4 linked regions of the Homo sapiens genome follow. The protein of the gene in region 2 purifies or fractionates together with the protein of the main gene of each other region. This does not show direct contact. Each region holds a gene or a part of one and is shown on either strand. Other genes may lie near its edges.

Region 1 (5,684 bases), 6.3 Mb from region 2:
AGCCAGCTCGAGGGACTCTGAGGGGCCCAACCCCTCTCACCACCAAGCACATCCCGGGCCCCCACTGCTTCTTAAACACAACATGTGGTCTTAATCTCAGGCGTAAGGCCTGAAAACAGTTTTCCAATTTCCGGAATGGCTTCTGGCCACAGGCAGAGCATGGATCCAAAAGATGACCTGACCCAGGAGAGCAGGCAGGGCTGTCGCTGGGCTTCCTGGTGCTTTAGGGACCGGCCACCCGTGGAGAACACGCATTGCAGTGGCTGGAGGTGGTCACCAGTACCCACAGCCATCCCAGGAGGAAGAGCAGGTGGCACCTCTGTGTGTGGTTTGGATATCCAGGGGGGAGATTCCTGGGACCCTCTTCACAAGAGACACCCCAGACTCCATGGAAAGATTGTCATTTTCATGGTTTTTGCAAATGCAAAAGATCTGAGTGCTGGCTCAAGCCAACTCGTACGCTAGGAGTGGCTTTCCCTGGGTAAGCAACTCGGGATGGGACTCTCCAGAGCCCAGGCTGTGGGGGCAGACAGGGAGCAGTGTCCGCCGGCCACAGAGCTGTGGGACAAGGGACAGAGAGAGGAGCCAGTGGGTGTTCTGGAGCTACCAGGCCACTGTCTCCTGGGCCCGGTCTGTCTGATACCGCCTCAGGGATGACCTCTGTTACCCACCCACAGAACCTAGGCCTGCAATCCTGCGAGCTGGCTGGAGCCAGGCACCCTCTTGAACCCATGAAGAGCCCCAGGAATTAGGTGCCGTTATGGCTCCATTTTACAGATGAGGAGACTAAGACTCAGAGAGGTTAAGTAACTTGCCTGTGGTCATACAGCTAACAAGTGGCAGGACCAGGATTCAGCCTGATCCTGGAAGCTGCCACGCCAAGATTTCTTCACATTTGGGCAGTGAGGCAAGGACACTGCCTTGGGAGTTGGTTCTGGCTCCCTAGGATTGCCAGAACCCATGGAACCTGAGTCTAGAGAACCTGCCCGCTGCACTGCGGTGTGGATGGGGCTGGTGCTGGTGAACTGACTGCGACTCGCTTCTCCCCTGTCTGTTCCAGAACCCCTCCTGGCCATGCTGTGACCTGCAACCTAACTTATAGGTAGAGACCGTCCCATGTCTACACAGAAAGCCTCCAGAGCTGCGGGGATGTGGCTGCCATGAGATCTCCACAGGCAGAGGGTAGCTTTTCCTTCCTCCTGTTGGGAGGTGACATAGAGAGAGAAAGGATGGCCTCGACAGTTAAACGTCACACTGACTGCCCAGCAACAGCCTCCTGTCTCTACAAGGAGAGAAAGGGCAGCATCGGCCACGGCTGTGTAACCACTGTGAGACTGGGGCAAAGTCCAGCTCCCGAAGGTGGCAAGCCCGGCCCAAGGGACAAGAGTGAAGGGCACATGGGACAGACCTGGGCCTGGAGGGCCCTGTGCAGCAGAGACAGGTACCTTGGCAGCGGCCAGCTCGTGGGCAAGCTCCTGGATCTTCTGCTGCTGCTGAATCAGCAGCTCCTGGACGGAGGCGAGGGTCGTCTGTAACTGAGTCACTGCGAGGAGAAAGCAGTCACGGCGCTGGCAAATTCACAGGCACAGACGTTCCCCTCGCTCGGTCCGCACACCTCGGAGCTGCCCGTGTTCCCGCTCCATCTAATTTATCTGCAGACACCCCCAGCCCCCGCAATCCATCTAATTTATCTGCACTCTGGGTGATCTGCCTGCACTGTATCTAACCTCTAGTATTTCTACTTTATCTTTCCATTGTGTAGTTGTCCATGGTCAACAGTATATCCGTCCAGAACCTCTCCCCTCTAATTAGAGCTGGCTATGATTTGCTGAGCTCTCCCGGCTTCTCTGGCGCCTGCGTCCTTCATCTCCTGGGCCTCAGTGTCCTTGTGAAACTCCTGGGGTCTCCAATGCTGGGAGAGATGCATCTCAGGTCCCCGCCACATTCACATCCAGGAGTGGCTCAAGCCGCACGTCCTGTTTCCCACTGCTCCTTCCCACCCTCCCCACCTGACCCAAGCTGCCTGCTCAACTCCCTGGTGTCCCGTGACCCCTCAGGACCTTGTTGCCACCAATGTCAGCCTCGCAGGAGCAAACGGCAGCAGGATGGACGTGTCAGAGGGTTTCTGTGAGCTTCACAAACGTGCTCCAGAGGGACACAGACTCCTGCCTGGGACAGGTGGCTCTCTCATTGGCCTTGCTCTGGTTTTTAGATTCAGAGCTGCCGTCTAGTAAACAAGTTTATAAAGAAGAGAAGCCACCTCTGGCGCGACAGGTCCCAGCTAATCTGGGCCATCGCTGGGGCACTGGGTAATGAACGCGAGCCCTGTTGAGTCGATAACAGGGGAGGTGGCTGGGGTCCCGGGAGCCACAGTAATTACAGACTCTCTTGACCCCACAGTCGAGTCTTAGAGGGAAGGGGGAAAATCACTGAAAACCCCCCTGAAAACCTCATAGAAGCAGAAATTAAAAATGAACTTTACAGCCCTTAGAAAGGCTGTCATTTTATTCCCCTTATTAATATTCTGAGGTTGGGAGCCTTTCCGTAAAAACATAATTAATTGAGGCCGCGCCGACAGTAAACAAGCAATTTCAAATTAAACCGAAATGACGGCGGCTTCATTTGCAAATGTGAACAGATTCTCAGAGCAGATAAATGAAGTCACCACATAGAGTGGAGACAGAGGGAGAGGGGAGGGGCAGAGAAGGGGCTGCTTGGAGAAGGCTGTGAGGGGTGACTTGATGGAGTCATTAATCTTTACCTGTCTGGGCCACGCTGCCACTCAGCTCAGAGAGACCGGCCTCCATCCTCTCCAGCTGCTTTCTGTCCTCTCGGCCGCCCAGGATGAGGGGGAGCAGGTATTTCTGCAAGAAGCGGGACAGGGTGAGGAATGCATACGGACCCGGGGTTATCCTCCAACAATCTCTCAAATTCTGCCGCCCAACTTTCTCCCTGTCATCCCTGGGTTTTGGAAACCCTAAGCAAACACCATAAATGAACAAGATATTTGAAAAAGTTATGAGACTGCGATTACAACCACGTAAAAATTCTGCCTGAATAAGGACAAGGACCAGGAGGGAACGTGGACAGGGAGAGTCAGCTGGATCTGCTGTGATGGGAACTTTTTGGTTCCTTTATTTACTTTTCTTAGTGATGCTACACTATTTCTGTAACACAAAGTTATAAACTCTACTGTCAAAGTTGTAAGATATAAATGTGGATGGACACACAAGCAACAGATAATGCTGGAGCCTCCAGGAGGCGAGGGAGGCGGGGCAGCTCTTCCCGGCATGTTCTCCTGAATTGTGAACATTTTGAACCTGTGAGTGAATCACCTATTCAGAAACAAACGAGTAAATTAATAAACAAAACATCGCTGGAGAAACTAAAGGAAAATCAACAACACATTTCTGGGACCCTTGGTTCTCTCGCCAGGGGATAACATGTGCGCTCTGAGGCTGCTGGAAGAGGTCACCTCAGTCTTTTTCTAAATGAAGCCTGAATCCTCAGAACAAACTTCCTTCACGTAAGAGTCAAAAGAAGTCGAGTTCCCCAGAAGGAAACACAAGGCAGAAGGGAGAGGAAGGCGCAGGACCAGAAGAAACTGGCTCTGGGGAAAAAGAAAGTGAATGCGGCAGGGCCACCCCTCACAGGGGCCTAGAACCAGGGATGCCCGAAGGAGCCGTTCAGGAAGGGGGCAGGCAGGGCAGGGCTGGCAACTGGTGCTCTTGGTTGCCTTGGAGGTGAGGGTGTGGAGGGGTGGAGGTGGGTGGTGGGGCCTGCAGGGACAGCTGCGTGTAGGAACATGTGCACTGACGTCCAGCCACTCGGGACATGGAGACAAAGCCCCCCAGGTGAGGAGTGAGACCCGCTGCCCCCTTCAGTGGGCACTGCCAGAGGCAGTGCAGTGCAAGCCTGGCAGGAGCTGCCCGGGGATAACTTTGGTTCTTAATCTATCTGGGCCCAGATAGGAAAGAGGACGGAAACTTCTCCATTACGGTTTCTGTACCAGGGAAGGAAAAGAAGCTCTCTCACAAGGGGTTTGTGGGAACTCATTTCCAGAGTGACTCCTAAGTGAAGATCATTCTTCAGCAGCACATGTATAGACGCATTTTCTATTTTGCAAAGTGCTTTTCAACCACAGTGTGAGCTATTACCCACAACTGAGCCAAAACTCATCAAAGGTAGCCTTACACTTCAGGATGAAATGTCCTCAGCAAGAAAGGTAAAGAATTCTTGGCCGGGCGCGGTGGCTCACGCTTGTAATCCCAGCACTTTGGGAGGCTGAGGTGGGCAGATCATGAGGTCAGGCGTTCGAGACCAGCCTGGCCAACACAGTGAAACTCCGTCTCTACTAAAAATATAAAGATTAGCTGAGTGTGGTGGCGCATGCCTGTAATCCCAGCTCCTCGGGAGGCTGTGGCTGGAGAATCGCTTGAACCCGGGAGGCAGAGGCTGCAGTGAGCAGAGATCATGCCACTGCACTCCAGCCCGGGTAACAGAGTTAGACTGTGTCTCAAAAAAAAAAAAAAAAAAAAAAGAATTCATATATGTGTGTGTAACCAACTAAACACCCCATTTCTGAGATCAGAAGTCCTAAGGGCAGGAGCAGACACGCTGCCCTAGCCAAAGTCTTCACGTGCTTATAAAGCCAGTCGAGGGCTTTTTACCATTTCTTTTTTTTTTTTTTTTTAATTTCGAGAAACTGAGCAGATGCTTTAGAAATTCTCTTGTTACCATTGTGACTGATATTGCAATGTTTCTTTTCTTTTTAAAACAGAGCGGAGAGCCCAGAGCTTCGTAGAAACTACAAGTGGCAGCTCCGTGTGAGTGCCCACGCTAAGGCGGGCTGCCGAGCTGCCCTCCCGCTCCCGTCAGGCCACAGGCCCTCCATGGGTGGCCATGTGACAGTGCCTACTGCTCATTACAGCCAGGGCATTCATCTGAGGACTCTGGCGTTCGTGTCACATTCTTCTTGGTGCTTGTATACAGTCAGTGATTTGAAGGGGGCACCAGTTCAGAGGGAGAAGAACCGGGTCCCAAGAGGTGTTTTTGTTCTGTTCTGTTTATTTATGTATTTATTTGAGACAAAGTCTCGCTCTTTCACCCACGCTGGAGTGCAGTGGCACAATCTCGGCTCACTGCAGGCTCACTGCAACCTATGCCTCCCAGGCTCAAGTGATTCTCCTGCCTCAGCCTCCCAAGTAGCTGGGATTACAGGTGCACGCCATGACACCCAGCTAATTTTTGTATTATCAGTAGAGACAGGGTTTCACCTTGTTGGCCAGGCTGGTCTCAAACTCCTGACCTCAAGTGATCCGCCCACCTCAGCCTCCCAAAGTCCTGGGATTACAGGCATGAGCCACTGCGCCTGGCTTATTTTGTTTTTTAAATTGAGACAGGGTCTCCTTCTGTTGCCGAGGCTGGAGTGCAGTAGTGTGATCTCAGTTCACTGCAACCTCCACCTCCCGAGCCCAAGTGATCCTCCCACCACCCTCAGCCTCCCGAGTATAGCTGGGACTACAGGCTCACACCACCATGCCTAGCTTATTTATTTTATTTTATTTTATTTTATTTTATTTTATTTTATTGTTTGGTAGAGACACAGTTTCACCATGTTGGCCAGGCTAATATCAAACTTCTGGGCTCAAGCAATCTGCCTGCCCTGGCCTCCCAAAGTACTG
Region 2 (5,684 bases):
TTATCTCGGCTCACTGAAACCTCCGCCTCCTGGGTTCAGGCGAGTCTGGGGCCTCAGCCTCCCCAGTAGCTGGGATTACAGGCATGTGTCACCACACCTAGATAAGTTTTGTATTTTTAGTAGAGATAGGGGTCTCACCATGTTGGCCAGGCTGGTCTCGAACTCCTGACCTCAGGTGGTCCGCCCGCCTCGGCCTCCTGAAGTACTGGGATTATAGGCGTGAGCCACTGCACCTGGTCTATCTGTGACATTTATGAGACATATGGAAAATTTAGACACTGGCTATTTGATGATATTAACAAAAGATTATTAAACCAGGTGTGGTTGCTCATGCCTGTAATCCCAGCATTTTGGGAGGTCAAGGCAGGAGGATCACTTGGGCTCAGGAGTTCAAGACCAGCCTGGGCAACAAAGTGAGACCTCGACTCTACAAGAAATAAAAAAATCAGCAAGCCTGGTGGCATGCACCTGTAGTCCCAGCTGCACAGGATCTGAGGTAGGAGGATTGCTTGAGACGAGGAGGCTGAGGCTGTAGTGAGCCATAAAGAAAAGAAAAGATTACTAACTAAAATGTTTTTAACGCACTAAATGAAATACCTTGGCCTCCTGCCTTGGGGCTCTCTCCGCAGCCTCCCTGACACTACTGTTGAGCTGACTGCTCACACGGATCAGGCAGGCCCAAGCTCCCCCGCTGAGGCAGGCTCTCCTTTCCCTGTACCAGCTCTTCATTGCAACCCCCCTGGCTGCCATGGGCTCCCACCTCCATGCCTTTGCTCATGCCTTGCTCCTGCTTGGAGCGCCTGCTGCTCTGCTTCAACCCTACCCATCCCTTGAGGCTCTGTGCAAATTCCATCTCCACAAAGTGGTTTTTCTGACCTCCCCACCCCTCCCATCCTTCTGAGCCTCGAGGACATTCCCTCTGTTCCACGTACATATCACTGACCACTCGCTTCCTCAGTCTAGAATTTTATTTTACTTTTTTTGGATGGAGTTCTGCTCTTGTTGCCCAGGCCGGAGTACAATGGCGAGATCTCGGCTCACCGCAACCTCTGCCTCCCAGGTTCAAGCAATTCTCCTGCCTCAGCCTCCCGAGTAGCTGGGATTACAGGCATGCACCACTATGCCCGGCTAATTTTGTATTTTTAGTAGAGACAGGGTTTCTCCATGTTGAGGCTGGTCTTGAACTCCTAACCTCAGGTGATCCACCCGCCTCGGCCTCCTCAAGTGCTGGGATTACAGGCGTGAGCCACCGTGCCCAGCCTAGAATTTTGGGGATCTACATCTTTTCATCACAAGAGGCTGTGAGGTCCTTGGTAGCAAAGCTGAATATTCTAGTGGATTAAAATCAGGAACTTCGGCCTGGCGCTGTGGCTCATGCCTATAATCCCAGCACTTTGGGAGGCTGAGGCTGGCTGATTGCTTGAGCTCAGGAGTTCGAGACCATCCTGGGCAACATGGTGAAACCCCGTCTCTACTAAAATACAAAAAAAAAAAAAAAATTAGCTGGGTGTGGCGGCATGTGCCTGTTATCCCAGCAACTCAGGAGGCTGAGGCAGGAGAATTGCTTGAACCCAGGAGGTGAAGGTTGCAGTGATCCAAGATCGTGCCACCTCACTCCAGCCTGGTGACAGAGCAAGACTCCGTCTGAGAAAAAAAAAAAATCAGGAACTTCAAACTCTGACTCAGCCACTTATGTACTACTGTGTGACCTCAGGAAGATCACTCAACCTCTCTGCGCCACAATGTCCTCATCTGTAATATGTGAATGAACACAGTTCCTACCTCACAGGGAAGCTATGAATATTAGTTGAAATGAAATATACAATGAGCCTAGCCCAGAGTAAACATCTAATAAATGCTGACTGCCACGACTGTGGTAATGGTTATTACAAGTTGCCTCTGTGTCCTCACCGGCCCTTGTGCACAGTAAGTGCGTTGAGTTGAACTGAAATTCAACTGAGTTCAGTTGGACATAAAGAGCAGGGCTGGCTCTCAGCTGCTGCCCCGTCCCCGGCCAGGCCTCACCTCTCAGTGAACATCTTCACCTCGCTGACCAGCCGCCGGAACCCCACCACCTGCCTCCAGAGGAGGAGCAGGCGACTGTGCTCGTTGCTGAAGTAGGCGTTGAAGGACTGGAGGGAAGACATGCCGAGGGAAGGGTTGGTGTGAGAGCGGGTTTACTCCCTCCCACTGCTTCCCTCATCTCCGACCATCCTGGGAGGCACCGTCGTTCAGGGATTGGGTCTTCCTGTGGGTCTGTGCACAGAGCTGTGTTGCAGCGGCCATGCTCAGCCTCCCAAGCCTCATGGCTCCCTCCTGCACAGGGACCTGGGTTTCAAGTCCTCTTTTGGCTGCAAGAGGCAGCAACGAAGGGCAAAAATGCAAGGGACCTAGCTTTGCATCCCAGCTGCCAGTTGCATGACTGTGGGCAGGTTACTTAAACTCTCTTTATTTATTTACTTATTTGGAGACAGAGTCTTGCTTTGTTGCCCAGGATGGAGTGCAGTGGCACGATCTCTCAGCCTCCCAAAGTGCTGGGATTACAGGCGTGAGCCACTGCGACCGGCCTTAACCTCTCTTTAAAATGAGGAGAATGATAGCACCTACCACATGCAGTTATCATGAGGAATAAAGGTCAACGCACACCGTGCACGTGGTACATGCTACACACTGATAAAGACCAGCTATTGTGATGACGGCTATTTACTTCTGCTAACAGGCTCCCTTGGACAGTGCTCCCTCTCCCTCTCCAGGCTTCTGAGTCCTCCCTCCTCTGCAGTGCCCCTTCCTCTTGGGTCAGGCTGGCCTCCCTGCACCCCCATGCCCACCTCCTCCTCGCGCCTCCACGCCGCCTCCCGGTGCTCCAGCTCCTTGCGGCAGCGTGTCCAGTCATTGGTCACCTTTCGTATGTCCTCACTCAGAGCCTGGTTGGCCGAGCCTGCCTGGTCCAGCTGTTCTCGGAGCATGGCATTCACCTGGGCCAGGCTGGCACTCCTGAATGGGGCACAGGGGATCAGTAGGCGCTCGCGCAGGGGGCCATCCTGCCAGCCCTGGCCCTCCCTGCTGCGCCCTCACCTCTGCTGCTCCTCCTCCAGCCGGATGAGGGCGCTTTCCAGGTCTTGGCTGTGCTCTGTGTCCTGGGTGGGAGAGAGGTTAAAGCATCAGGTTGGGCAGGTGGAGGGCAGGGCCTGCCCCTGCCCCACACTGGCACCCACCCTCAGCCGCTGCTGCTCCAGCTCTCCGGATCTCTCCAGCAGCTGCTGCTCCAGCTCCGAGCACCTCTTCTTGTACTGGAGAATCTGGGGATGGGGAGCTGATGGTGAGCCCCAGGGGTTGGGGCGGGGCAAAGTGAACAGGTGGGAGGACAGGAGCAGGAGTGGGTGGTCCTGACCTTGCCCTGCAGCCGCTGCACAAGCTGGGCCTGCCGCTGCTGGCCCTCCTGGTAGGCCTGCAGCTTGCGCCGGTAGGAGGCCTGCTCCTCCTGCAGCTGCCTCCGCAACTCCACGCTCTGCCGTACCAGCCCCCTGGGCTCCTGCGTCTCCAGCTCCCCAGGCTCCAGCCGCAGAGCCTGCTCCAGCTGCAGGGAAGGGCCCTGGGTGAGAGTCCTGGGCCTCCTGGGAAGGCAGGCTCAGGCTTCTGTAGGGCGTGGCAGGCTGGGCCCAGACCCACAATGCCTTGTAGGCTGATAGCCTGGCGCCCTGGGGAGCAGCACATGTGGGCAAGCCCAGGGGCAGTGCACGTGTGTATGGGGTGATGCAGCCATGCACGGGCACGCAGACGGGGCATGCATGGACACATGCAGGTGAGCCCACAAACCCAAACCACGCAGGCAAAGCTCAAAGGTGCACCTGGGTCAACCTCAGGGGCCTCAGTACACCATGTGCCTCTCCTCCAGAACACTTAGCCCTGTCGTGGTTTCTGTTTATTACATTGATGCCTGTGTCTTCCCACCATGCCCCGACCCCAATGTGAGCTCAGGAAAGCCTGGATTTTTTGTTCCTCATTGTATCTTAGTACTAGAATGGTGGCTGTGGAATGGCATGGCTCACGCTCAGTAAATATTTGTTGCGATAGTGAATTAATGGGATGAGCTCATGGGAATACATTCAAAACAGAGGTGTCAATCTGTCTATGCATATCTGACCTTAAAGATATGCACACACATAACACATACAGGCAACCTCAAACATTCCCGGAGGACACGAAGGAACCCCCTCATATACACAGCATTAAGATTTGTAAGAGGTGCACACAGGTGTTGCCCTATACGGCGCCTGCATATTAATGCCCCCTTCTGGCTGGGTGCAGTGGCTCATGCCTGTGATCCCAGCACTTTTGGAGGTCAAGGCGGGTAGATCACTTGAAGTCAGGGGTTCAAGACCAGCCTGGCTAACGTGATGAAACCCCGTCTCTACTAAAAATACAAAAATTAGCTGGGCGTGGTGTCATGCACCTGTAATCCCAGTTACTCAAGAGGCTGACGCAGGAGAATCACTTGAACCTGGGAGGCGGAGGTTGCAGTGAGCCGAGATCGTGCCACTGCACTCCAGCCTGGGCGACAGAGCAAGACTCCATCTTTATTTATTTATTTTTTATTTTATTTTATTTATTTATTTTTTTGAGACAGAGTCTTGCACTGTCTCCTGGGCTGGAGTGCAATGGCTCGATCTCGGATCACTGCAACCTACACCTCCCGGGTTCAAATGATTCTCCTGCCTCAGTCTCCCAAGTAGCTGGGACTACAGGTGCACGCCACCACACCTGGCTAATTTTTTGTATTTTTAGTAGAGATGGGGTTTCACTATGTTGGCCAGGCTGGTCTCGAACTCCTGACCTCGTAATCCACCCGCCTCGGCCTCCCAAAGTGCTGGGATTACAGGTGTGAGCCACAGCATCCGGCCCAAGACTCCATCTTAAAAAAAAAAAGGTCCCCTCCATCCTCACTGCAGGAAAGCCTCTGTTGCTGCTGCCCTTCCTCCACCCCCAGGAAGCTTCCATCCCGCACATCCTCAGACCCCTGTGGGCTCTGGCTGTCCCTACCAGCCATAGAACCCTCTCAACTCCCTTAAGGCACCTGCTGGCCCCAGGTGGCCCCTCATCTTCCCCAGCTGTTGGGGGAAGGGAGGTGAGGGAGGAGCAGGGCAGTGGGAGAGCACACAGTGGGTCAAGGGCACCTGGCAGCGACAACACCCCAGCCCAGCTTACTCTGATGCTAGCCCTGCACTCACCATCTGCATCCTCAGGACCTGGCCTGCTACAGCCCAGGCAGGGCATTCAAAAGCCCACCCGTGCAGGGCCACGCCAGCCACAGGAAGCCAACAGGAGGGCAGCTGCTCTCACCCACGCTCATCTCGGGTCTTGGGTCCAGGCCAGGTTAGCGGTAGGGAAGGTGCCCTCCAGGCCTGCATTGACCCCATATGCTGAGAGATGTTCTATGAGCCACAGACAAAGCAAGGACATCTCTACCCACCCCACCCCCGGGACACGTGCATGGCAGCCCCACCAATAGGGAGGAGCTAACTGTGACTACTTGGGGGCTTCCCCCTGAGTCTGGAGGAACACAGTCCAAGGCTGTGCAGGGGAGGTGGAAGTAGGGGGTTTCTGCCTGGATGGCGGCTGCAGGCCTGTCAAGCGTCTGTGCCAAGCCCACTGAGGTCAATGGTGAGCGGTGTCCACATCTGTGT
Region 3 (5,684 bases), on a different chromosome or scaffold from region 2:
CACGGGCTTCTTGAAGCCCAAGTGTCTCTGCAGCTGTTTGGTGGCAGTGAACGTGGCTGGCCCAGCAGGCACTGGCCTCTCCTCCAACAGGAAGTGGTAGACGAAGCAGTCGTTGGTGCCCACGTAGAGGTCCCTGCCGCAGCACTCCACGCACTCTATGTTGACGCGCTCCTTGTCGCCCATCAGCAGCTCCCGCTCCACAGCAGAGACAAGCGTAAAGGCTTTGATGCTCATCATGTCTACTGGCTGATCTGCTGGAAGAGAAAGAGGAAAACTAATTTTAGAGGAACAAGGAAGAAGCAGAAACAGAGGCTGCAATAATGATACGTGGATTCCCTAGTTGTCATTTTCATTAAAGAAAGTCATTCCACGCTATCAAAAAATGGAAAGAAACCATTTCCCCACAGACCTCCCCCATCAGACAGCAGAAGACCCAAGAAGAAAACCACAGACACATACACACACACACACCCATATACACATATGTATGTGCTTGTGATCACGTGCCATCCTGCTCAGTCCCCACACAGAGTCACCTGGAGCCTCCTCACATTGCTCCTGGGAGACACGCTTGAAGGCAGAAGACAAATGCATGCATTCACCCACGGGCAACATAACAAAAGGATTTCTGTGAGGCAGGAGGATGGCTTGACCCCAGGAGCTGGAGGCCAGCCTGGGCAATATAATGAGACCCCATTTAAAAAAAAAAACAAAAAGGATTTCTGAAAAAGGCAGAAATGATCCTCACTGATCTTCCCTGAGTTTCTACAGCTACTTGAATATGCACTTTAGTCAATGAACACAACCACAGTCACAGGATCCTGCCAGGAACACCGAGGCAGACGCCAGGCCTTGGATTCCTTTGTGTTCTTCCCAATAAGGCAGGCGCATCAGCCTCAGCTCCGGAGTAAATGTATTCATGTGGAGAGTAAAGGTGTGCCTCGGATCTCGAAAGGCTTTCAGATGGTGAGTGGAGCTATTTAGTGGATGTGTGGACCGACCGGTCCCTGGCTCCCATTGGAAGTGAGACTTTCCCACACACTAGCCCGTCGCCTCCTACTTCATCTTCTGCAGAGAACTGTGGCTTCACACTCCACAAAGTCACAGGGAGAAGATCAGGCAAGGTGGCCTTTCTGACTTCTCAGGCAGCCAGAAGCAAACTCAAAGGCACAGTCCCTGTGAGCGGGAGCAGGGCAGGGGATCAGAGAGCTGGAAAGAGGACTGCAGAGAATGACGGGAGCTGCAGGGCAGCTGGCTGGGCTTGCGTCAGCACTGCTGCATGTTCAGAGAGCTTGAAGTGAAAGGCTGCTATCACTGTCACTTCCTCATCTCAAGTTGTCTGAACATGGAACAGTGCTGCTTCATGAGAGCTTAAGTTCCTAATACTTGGAGGCATTCCAGCAAAGCAGGGAAGACCTCTCAGAAATATTCAAGAAAGGTTCACGCATCAGGGAAGGGAAGGAATCAGAGAACTTCTTTGGTGCCTTTCAAATAGAAAATTTGGAATTCTACAATTTTGTGTCTGCCCCCATCCATGGGGGCAATGACAGCTACACACAAGTGAGACTCCAGCCCCCTTCCTTAGCTCTACAAAACCCCCAGGAGGGAGGATACCCCAGGGTTGAGGAGGAGGCTTGTCTGTAGACACATCAGTCCTTCCTGTTTTCTTCCCATCACTTGAGCAAATTACTTGGTGCTATGGTCAGAATGTCTGTGTCCCCCTAAAATTCATATGTTGGAACTTAATCCCCAGAGTGGTAGTGTTGGGAGGTGGGGAGGTGATTAGGTCATGAGGGTGGAGCCCTTATGAATGGCATTAGTGCCCTTATTAAAGAGGCCCCAGAGAGCTTATTTGTTCCTTCCATCCACTATGTGAGGAGGCAGCTGCAAGGCACCACCCCTGAGGGATGGGCCCTCACCAAACACTGAGCCTACCATGCCTTAATCTTGGACTTCCCAGCCTCCATGAACGGTAAGCAATACATTTCTATTATCTATTAATTACCTAGTGTATGGTAGTTTGTTACAGCAGCTGGAATGGACACTTGGCTATTCCAGCCTCAACTGCCTCATCTGTGAAATGAGAATAACGGTACCTACTTCATAGGATTGTTGGACGATTAAGTAAGTGACCTCATATAAAATGCGGACAGCTGGCACACAGCACTCAAACTTTTGGATCTCATCATAAATACTATGATTCCCTCCCAGTCTGGATCAGCTCTCACTCCTCTCTCAAACTACCAGCTTGCTTCAGGTGTTTATTTCCCAAGCTGGGCACCAAGAGATTAGACTATGCTGTCTTCTGTCCTCAGATATGGGTAACCTGTTCACCTCCGCCAAAACACAGCCTGCATCATAAGCCAGAACACACACTCACACACCTGCCCCACCCCTAAGACATCTTCACACTCACCTACGGGAGCTCATCTTCACAGAAACTATGGAAAAGAGCTGGGGGAAGTGTAGAGGGAGGTTCTAAAGGCACCACAGAGAAGGAATCATGTCCATCTACCTCGGGGCTGTGGGAACATCCCCAGAATCCCAGGTGAGGCCGAGTGCAGAACTCTTGCAGGCTTCTACAAATAGTCTCTGGCACAAACAGCTCTTAAACAACATCATGTATTTGTCCCAACCAAACATAACCACCAAAACCCACCTAGACAACATTTTTTTCTCCATTTAAGAGCTAATGAGTAAAACCCAGATATTGAAATGTCAGCTTCCAGACATCTAAGTTAGTGAAAGTGAAGTAATACAAAATACTTCTTCCTTCATTGATTAATCAATCAGGGTTGTCTTTTTTAAATGGCAGGAGTAAGCAGTTCTGCCATTTAAAATATAAATTGTGTCTCCCTTTGCGGAAGGAATAGAGAAACAAACTCTGGGCACCTACAATCAAACTCCTTTTATTTAGCTTCTTAAAAGTATAATATTCATAATTCCAGCCCCTGTCTTCAGTTAGCATAAGGGATAAACTAAACACATTTGCAGTAAAGAATATTATAGAAAGAATCAAACGCCTCATATTTAGTCTAAATCCTGGGGTAGATAGAGAAGGGGAGAGGGAGAGAGAGCTGTAAAAAAAAAAAAAAAACAAAAAACAAAAAAACATATGGTTTACTAAAAAGTCATAACTCTATAATATTTAAAAACAAATGCAATATTGTTTCATTATCTAGTAAACTGTTATTCAAGCCTTGCTAAAGATAAGCTTCCTATTATAGGCCTTTAAATTAAGGACTTGCTTTGGTAATTAAATGGTAATAATGCAGAATTACATGGAGGTAAATGAAAGCTGAAGAAGTAACATGCTAGCACTTAAAAATGACTTATCCTTAACCCTGTCTCTACAAAAAAAATATAAAAACTTAGCCAGACCTGGTGGGGCACACCTGTATTCCCTCCTCCTCAGGAGGCTGAGGTAGGAGGGTTGCTTGAGCCCAGTGGTTTGCGGCTTCAGTGAGCCATGATTGCACCACCGCTCTCCAGCCTGGGAAACAGTGTGAGATGCTTTCACACAGAAAAAAAAAGAAAAAAGAAAAAAAAATTGGCTAGGAGTGGTGGCTCACACCTGTAATCCCACCATTTTGGGAGGCTGAGGCAGGCGGATCACCTGAGGTCAGGAGTTCAAGACCAGCCTGCCCAACATGGCAAAACCCCGTCTCTACTAAAAATACACACACAAAAAAAAGTTAGCCAGGCATGGTGGCGGGCACCTGTAATTCCAGCTATTCAGGAGGCTGAGGCAGGAGAATCGCTTGAACTGGGAGGCAGAGGGTGCAGTGAGCCGAGATCGTACCACTGCACTCCAGCCTGGGTGACAGGAGCAAAACTCCATCTCAAAAAAAAAAAATTAATTTAAAAAACTATTTTTTTTAAGCAGTGGGAAAATTCTCTCCATGATCTAATTCACATGATATATTTACTTAGATAAAATATGAATCATAAAAAGATAAACTTTAGGCCACACCTCTATTAAATATAACTTGCTGGGGTTCTGAATCAGAGAAGTTTCAACATGGTAATGTTTCAAAAGGAAACGTTTCTCTAAGGTGTAAAATTCATACTTTACTGTGTGATCTCAAAATGATCGAAAATTTAAACTTTTTGTTAGAACTTCACTTTAAGGCTTACCTATAATCCTAACACTTTGAGAGGCCCAGGCAGGAAGATCACTTGTGCCCAAGAGTTCAAGACCAGCCTGGGCAAAATATTGAGACTTGGTCTCTATTTTTAAAAAAAATAAGAATATTAAATTTAAAAAATTCACTTTAAAAGTATGATTATAATAATTTAAAAGATCAACATTTTAATGTTTTCTTAAAATTTCAAAATACATACCCAGGTAGGGAAGAGATTGGAAAATGCTAGGATGCTCAAGGACCATAATTTAATTAAGCTAACCTTGCATATGCAGCAAGCACCTCTAAGTTTGCAAAAAACTAAACAATTACAAGACACAATCCCACTTCCTAAGAGTCTCCCCGTCCTATTAAGGAAATAGGACTAGAAAAATAAATCAGTAATAGTATAAAGCAATACATGCTAAGGGTCAAAATAAAAATATTAGTAATTATTTCCTACCAGGTTAAGAATATGCACATTGTCATTTTAAAGATTCTGCCACTGGTGATAGTCAGAATCTTAGTCAGCATCTTTAAAGATGCTAATGTAAAAATACAAATCTTTTTCTACAAATGTACACAGAAACATTATCTTTTAGTCAGTATCTGGCATCACTTTAAAAGAACTGATGACTTTTGGCCGGGCATGGTGGCTTACACCTGTAATCCCAGCACTTTGGGAGGCCGAGGCAGGTGGACCACCTGAGGTCAGGAGTTCGAGACCAGCCTGGCCAACATGGTGAAACCTTGCTTCTACTAAAAATACAAAAATTAGCCAGGCGTGATGGCACATGCCTGTAATTCCAGCTACTTGAGAGGCTGAGGCAGGAGAATCACTTGAACCCGGGAAGCGGAGGTTGCAGTGAGCAGAGATCGCGCCACTGCACTCCAGCCTGGGCAACAAGAGTGAAACTCTGTCTCAAAAAAAAAAGAGAACTGATGACTTTTGGCATCTTCCCTTACTCCTTAGGAAGTTTCCTAAACCTCAGTTCAAAAATGACAATTCTGTTCTTTCCGGCTACACATGGGGTGGGCGCCACAGATTTTATATTACCCATAAGTTTCAAAGGAAGTTTCTGTGTTCTTTACTTGGAGACCTGTTACAAAAGCTATGTAGGCTTCTAGAGGTCCCACTTCTTTTCACAGCACAAGGCCAAGGCCAGGAGAGCTGACTGGGATGAGTTTATGGGCAGCACAGAGCACTGGCTACATTCTGATTTAATAGACACTGTCTATCCTACAAAGCAAGCACTGGGTCCAGATGGATTTCCTAGCGAGTTCCACTAAACACTTAGGAACCACCTAATTCCAATTTCACATAATAAATGTTTCTAAGGATAAAAAGATAAATAAAAGAGGGAACATATCCTTACTTTATTTTATGAAAGTAGTAGAAAGTAAAACTTTGATATTCAAGCCAGATAAGGATACAGGAAAAAAGAAAAATCACAGATCATTCTTACTCACAAATAAACCTGCAAAAACACTAAATATTAGCACACGAAATCCACAAATATATATTAAAAATGCAATATGGCTAAGTTGGGATGCAGTATT
Region 4 (5,684 bases), on a different chromosome or scaffold from region 2:
ATTTTCTCACCTGTGGGGTCCACCTCTGTCCCTCTGACTCACAGAATGTGACTGCCCCCCTCCTTCTTATGATAGTCCTTCAGAGGTCTGAAGACAGAAAGCATATCTTCCTTGAGTCTTCTCTAAGTTGAATACTCCCAATCACCCCAAACAGAGTAGTGCAGTGCAGGAAAAGTATAGTTTTGTGATCAGAGTTGTATTCAAAATTCCATATCACAACTTACTAACTACATGACCTAGAGTATGTTCTTTCACCTCACAGAGGCAGGAGCATTGTGAGGATTAAAGCGCCTAGCCAGGAATAGGCCATAGTATGTGCTCAATAAATGATACTTCTCAAGATAACAATGATGAGAAGTCATGGACTTCTTGGTTTCCAAGTCTCCCAAAGGCTTTGTTTTGGAAGCAGTAGCATTCAGAACTAGCATACCAATCTGCCCAGGGTTCCCTACTATCTGGGGTTCCCTACTATCTGGACTTCCCTCAAATCCACACCCACAGCACACAAACCAAACCAACACTAACAAAAAACTACCAGGCATTGAGGTTTTTTGAAGTTAATAAACCTCTTTGTTCAAGAATTTTTCTGCCCCCACTAGGCTCCAAATCATGCCTTCCTCATCCTCCACAGCCATCCCCCTGCAATGCACATATACAAAGCCCCCAGTGTTGAGGGTAGAGGATGGCGTCATCTGGTTTGGGATGGGGAATTAGTAGAATCAGGGCTCTTGGAAGGAGTATAGGTAAATGTCAAAGGAGCCTCTGGCTCCCAGCTGGTCTGTAAAATCTGCACTGACTAACCGCTTCCCTCTCTAATAGCTGCTACCCAGAATGATACTGCTGTCTAAAGCAAAGGGCCCAAAAGCCTATGTGTTCTATGGACACTTCCTCCCTTTTGTCTTAGAGACAGTAAAAAGCCTGTCAAGGAAGAGATGATCCCCCTGCCAGCTAGCCCTACCTCCTCACATATGCCAGCAGCTGATCATACTCAGGTGAGGCATTTCTCTCCTTTTTACAGAAAAGGATTGTCTGAAATCCCAATACTAGGAACAGAAATGGGAGAGAAAGAGAGATGGAATGCACAAATAAATGCCAGAGATAAATTTTCTGAGAGATAACCAGATTTGAGAAACAAGTTAGGCATTGTACAGATGAGAAACTGAGGCCCAAATAAGGGAAACGTTTGTATCACAGCGAATTAGTGATAGAGCCAACCCTACAGCCCAAGATTCATGACTTTCTATCCAGGCCCTTTTGACTTCACTAGGCTGTCCCTTTAAAAGTTCTCCAATATAACCTCCATGTGAAGAGAGAATGCAAAGCACAATTATAATTAGAATGCATTTAGTCATTCCAGACTAGCACCATAATCACTTGTGAGCTATGTGAATGTAAGCACATCACTTTAATTGTAGTAAACTTGTATTTAAATATTCCTCAGACTAATTTGTATTTTCACCAATTAAGTATCAATGATTACACTTTGCCATTCAAAGTAAAACAAACACAAAACAAACTCCAGAGAAGTAAGTTCCACCTAAATCTGAAGTTAGATATTCTGAGGATCATTAAGCCCATCTCCCAATTCTCCCAATTCTAGATTATTTTTCTTTACTTTTTTTTTTTTTTTTTAGAGACAGAGTCTTGCTCTGTCACCTAGGCTGGAGTACAGTGGCGTGATCATAGCTCACTGTAACCTTGAACTCCTGGGCTTGAGCAACCCTCCTGGCACAATCTCCTGAGTAGCTGGGACTATAGGTGTGCACCACCATGCCATGCTAATTTTTAAATTTTTTGTAGAGACAGGGTCTCGCTGTGTTACCCAGGCTGGTCTCGAGCCCCTGGGCTCAAGCAATCCTCCCATCTCAGTGTTAGGATTACAGACATGAGCCACCACATCACGTCAACTCCAGCTCAATTAATAATACAAGAAGCACAATGGTATTGGAAAGGGAGCTATCATTTATTACTTCTCTACCATATGCTGGATGCTTTCTTCCAGCTAACACTTTCTTTCCTATTTGTGTTTTCTTATCTTTCTCACCTATTTCGAATTTATCTTTTTGGATTGGACATCCTTATATGCCACTATAATCAGATTTTTGAGTAACAGGTAAGATACAAAACATAACACACTCACAAAAATCCTGTGAGGTAAGTATTAGATATTTCTCGGGGGGAGGGGATGAAGATACCAACCCAGAGAGTTCAATAATTTTCCCAGGGTCTAACTAGGAAAATGAGGATTTTGTGTCCTCATCTGTAAAACATGCCCATACTAATTCATGCACTCACAGAGCTTTGTGATAGTCAAATGCTTATCATAATACTTAGCATACACTGAGTCCTGGATAAATGTTAACTCTCATCTGTATTAGCCACAGACAATAATTTTCCCACTCTATGTAATAAGAACTCAGAAGGTGTACCCAAGCTGTCCTCAAATTTCTAGCCCTCTCCTACCCCTGTCTCCATTCTACTCTTGTCTTTTCTCTCACCAGTCAGAAGTATTCACAGGAATAGAATTAGCTTATTTGAACACTACCTCCTTCTTTTTTTCTTCCTCTCTCCAACCCTGGGGAAGTTCTCATATGGTAGAAGGACACAGAGAGCAAGGAAGAAAGGGAAGCAAGAGGGCCTGGAGAATCCATCAGGGTGATATGCAGCCTAACATCCTGGACAATAACTCAGACCTCCACTTCATCGGAGTCTGGTGGAGAAATAGGATAATGGCCTGTCTGGTGAGGTCCCAGCCTCTGGAAATGGGAGCCTCATTTTTGCTCCTAGAAGTCTGGCCACAGACGGCACATTCCCTTGAATGCTAAAAATGTCTGTAGCTGCCATCTGTTTATTATAGTATACAGTACATCCTTTCTGACAATAATGATTCACAATGAAGGGACACCCCTTGGGTTGGAGATGGGAATGACCTCTTCACTATGGCGAGTAAGCAATTATCTTCATGGCATGCCTGTAGGAGATGAAGCAGCCTCCTACTGCATCCATCAACTCCCATGTTGTCCTAAGTCCCAACATTCTTTTGAGAGAAATGTGCATAGAGCTTACTACCTCAGGGAGAGTAAGTTAGTTTCCTTCTACTAGGAAGCAAAAACATGGGACAGAGGCAGTGTGGTGCAGTGGCAACAATGTGGAGTGCAAATCCCAGCCAAATATCATTTGGGTGCAATTAAGTTATTTAACTTCTGAGCCTCATCATTAAAATGGAGAAGACATCACTTACATGTTTCAGAGTTAAAAGGAAGGCTCCATATGCTAAGATTTTTAAAGCATCTAGCATAGAATATACACCATTTTCTTTTCTCCCTTATTCAGGACCAAAGATAAAATTAATCAGGACCATAGGGTGCAGGCTGCCAAAGTTTAACTTTGCCTCCTTTCATATTAAGTCTGGAATCAGCCTTCATTTTGATCTATCTTGGAGTGAACAGGAAGAGAGATTCTTTGACAAGAGGCAAAAGTCATGGATTGTTGGCATTGTGGTGGAAGCTATTCAGAGAAGGAGAGGAGGCTAAGGAGTCTCCGCCTTACCTGGTCAAATAGCTGCTTCCCGGTGGTGTTGGGCTGGATGGCAAACTCCAGCTCTGCATCCATGGTGGTCACACGCACACTGATCTAGGATGAGATCAAAGGAAGCAGGTTAGTCATCTGGCTCTGTGTTCAACAGAGCCTGAGACAAGTGTCTCTGCTCAACCACAGAGGAAGGAGTTAGGATGCTAAGAGCCTGGGCAACTTAGATACTGATGGGGATGAAGGGAGAATATTGACCCAAACACAACCCCTGCTCCCAAGCAGCTTATTGAAGACAAACAACACAGCCACAGAGCAATACTTACCAAAGAACAGACAAGCATGAAGGCCGGGTGCAATGCCTCATGCCTGTAATCCCAGCACTTTGGGAGGCCGAGGTGGGTGGATTGCTTGAGGCCAGGAGTTCGAGACCAGCCTGGGTAACATGGCAAAACCCCATCTCTACTAAAAATACAAAAATTATCCGGGCATGGTGGTGCACACCTGTAGTTCAAGCTACTTGGGAGGCTGGGGTATGAGAATCACTGGAACCCAGAAGGTAGAGGTTGCAGTGAGCCGAGATCACACCACTGCACTCCAACCTGGGCAACAGAGCGAGACTTTGTCTCAAAAAAATTTTTAAAAAAGAATGCAGATCAGCCTACAACTAAGAGCAGGCAAATGATAACTGTACTTCTTCCAGGAAGGCCTTTCCATCTATACTAGACAGCTTCATCTCACAGGGTTCTCTTCTCACCTCTGATCTACCTGGATTATCTATAGCACTGGTAAACAATTGCAGAGGCAAATTAATATCAGGACAAAGAGCACTGGGTTCCACATGATAATCTAAAGGGCAGAAAAAGCTTTCAATAAAATCTAACACCCCTTCATGTTAAAAGTTCTCAATAAACTAGGTATTGAAGGAGCATACCTCAAAATAATAAGAGCCATCTGATAAAGCCACAACCAACATCATACTGAATGCGCCAAAGCTGGAAGCATTCCCTTTTAAAACCGACACAAGACAAGAATGCCCTCTCTCACCACTCATATTCAACATAGTATTAGAAGTCCTGGCCAGAGCAATCAGACCAGAGAAAGAAATAGAGGGCAACCAAGCAAGAGGAGAGGAAGTCAAACTATCCTTGTTTGCAGATGACATGATCCTATATCTAGAAAATCCAATAGTCTCGGCCCAAAAGCTCCTTAATCTGATAAATAACTTCAGCAAAGTCTCAGTGTACAAAAATCAACATACAAAAGTCACTAGCATTCGTATACACCAACAACAGTCAAGCCAAGAGCCAAATCAGGAAGGCAATCCCATTCAGAACTGCCACAAAAGAATAAATATCTAGGAATACTGTTAACTAGGGAAGCGAAAGATCTCTACAAGAAGAACTACAAATCACTGCTCAAAGAAATCAGATATGACACAAACAAATGGAGAAACAGTCCATGCTCATGAATAGGAAGAATCAATATTGTTAAAATGGTGATACTGCCCAAAGCAATTCATAGAATAGACTCAATGCTATTCCTATCAAACTACCAATGACATTCTTCACAGAACTAGGAAAAACTATTTTAAAATTCATATGGAAACAAAAAAACAGCCTGAATAACCATGGCAATCCTAAGCAAAAAGAACAAAGCTGGAGGCATCATGCTACCCAACTTCAAATGATACTAGAGGGCTCCAGTAACCAAAACAGCATTGTACTGGTACAAAAACAGACACAGAGACCAATGGAGCAGAATAGAGAGCCCAGAAATAAGGCCACACACCTACAACCATCTGATCTTTGACAAAGTCGACAAAAACAAGCAATGGAAAAAGGACTCCCAATTCAATAAACAGTGCTGGGATAACTGGTTAGCCATATGTAGAAGATTGAAACTGGACCCCATCCTTATCTCACATATAAAAATCAACTCTATATGTATTAAAGACTTAAATGTAAAAGTAATGTAAAACTCAAAATTATAAAAACCCTCAAAGAAAACCTACGTAATACCATTCTGAACATAGGAATGGACAAAGATTTCATAACAAAGACGCCAAAAGCAATTGCAACAAAAGCAAAAATTGACAAATGAGATCTAACTAAACTAAAGAGCTTCTGCACAGCAAAAGAAACTATCGAGTTAAC

The links.
Region 1: the proteins of CROCC (region 2) and PEX14 purify together in Homo sapiens (affinity purification with mass spectrometry; one large-scale study listed by BioGRID and IntAct). This does not show direct contact.
Region 3: the proteins of CROCC (region 2) and TGFBRAP1 purify together in Homo sapiens (affinity purification with mass spectrometry; one large-scale study listed by BioGRID and IntAct). This does not show direct contact.
Region 4: the proteins of CROCC (region 2) and MSN fractionate together in Homo sapiens (co-fractionation; one large-scale study listed by BioGRID). This does not show direct contact.

What each region holds. Positions count from the first base shown.
Region 1 is NC_000001.11:10,620,199-10,625,882, reverse strand, and holds part of PEX14 (peroxisomal membrane protein PEX14), read right to left. Parts: intron 2,865-5,684; coding exon 2,762-2,864; intron 1,544-2,761; coding exon 1,446-1,543; intron 1-1,445. UniProt on the Homo sapiens protein: Component of the PEX13-PEX14 docking complex, a translocon channel that specifically mediates the import of peroxisomal cargo proteins bound to PEX5 receptor.
Region 2 is NC_000001.11:16,927,739-16,933,422, reverse strand, and holds part of CROCC (rootletin), read right to left. Parts: intron 3,578-5,684; coding exon 3,392-3,577; intron 3,300-3,391; coding exon 3,216-3,299; intron 3,138-3,215; coding exon 3,076-3,137; intron 2,995-3,075; coding exon 2,829-2,994; intron 2,133-2,828; coding exon 2,026-2,132; intron 1-2,025. UniProt on the Homo sapiens protein: Major structural component of the ciliary rootlet, a cytoskeletal-like structure in ciliated cells which originates from the basal body at the proximal end of a cilium and extends proximally toward the cell nucleus.
Region 3 is NC_000002.12:105,308,065-105,313,748, forward strand, and holds part of TGFBRAP1 (transforming growth factor-beta receptor-associated protein 1), read right to left. Parts: intron 255-5,684; 5' UTR 238-254; coding exon 1-237. UniProt on the Homo sapiens protein: Plays a role in the TGF-beta/activin signaling pathway. It associates with inactive heteromeric TGF-beta and activin receptor complexes, mainly through the type II receptor, and is released upon activation of signaling.
Region 4 is NC_000023.11:65,714,767-65,720,450, reverse strand, and holds part of MSN (moesin), read right to left. Parts: intron 3,634-5,684; coding exon 3,550-3,633; intron 1-3,549. UniProt on the Homo sapiens protein: Ezrin-radixin-moesin (ERM) family protein that connects the actin cytoskeleton to the plasma membrane and thereby regulates the structure and function of specific domains of the cell cortex.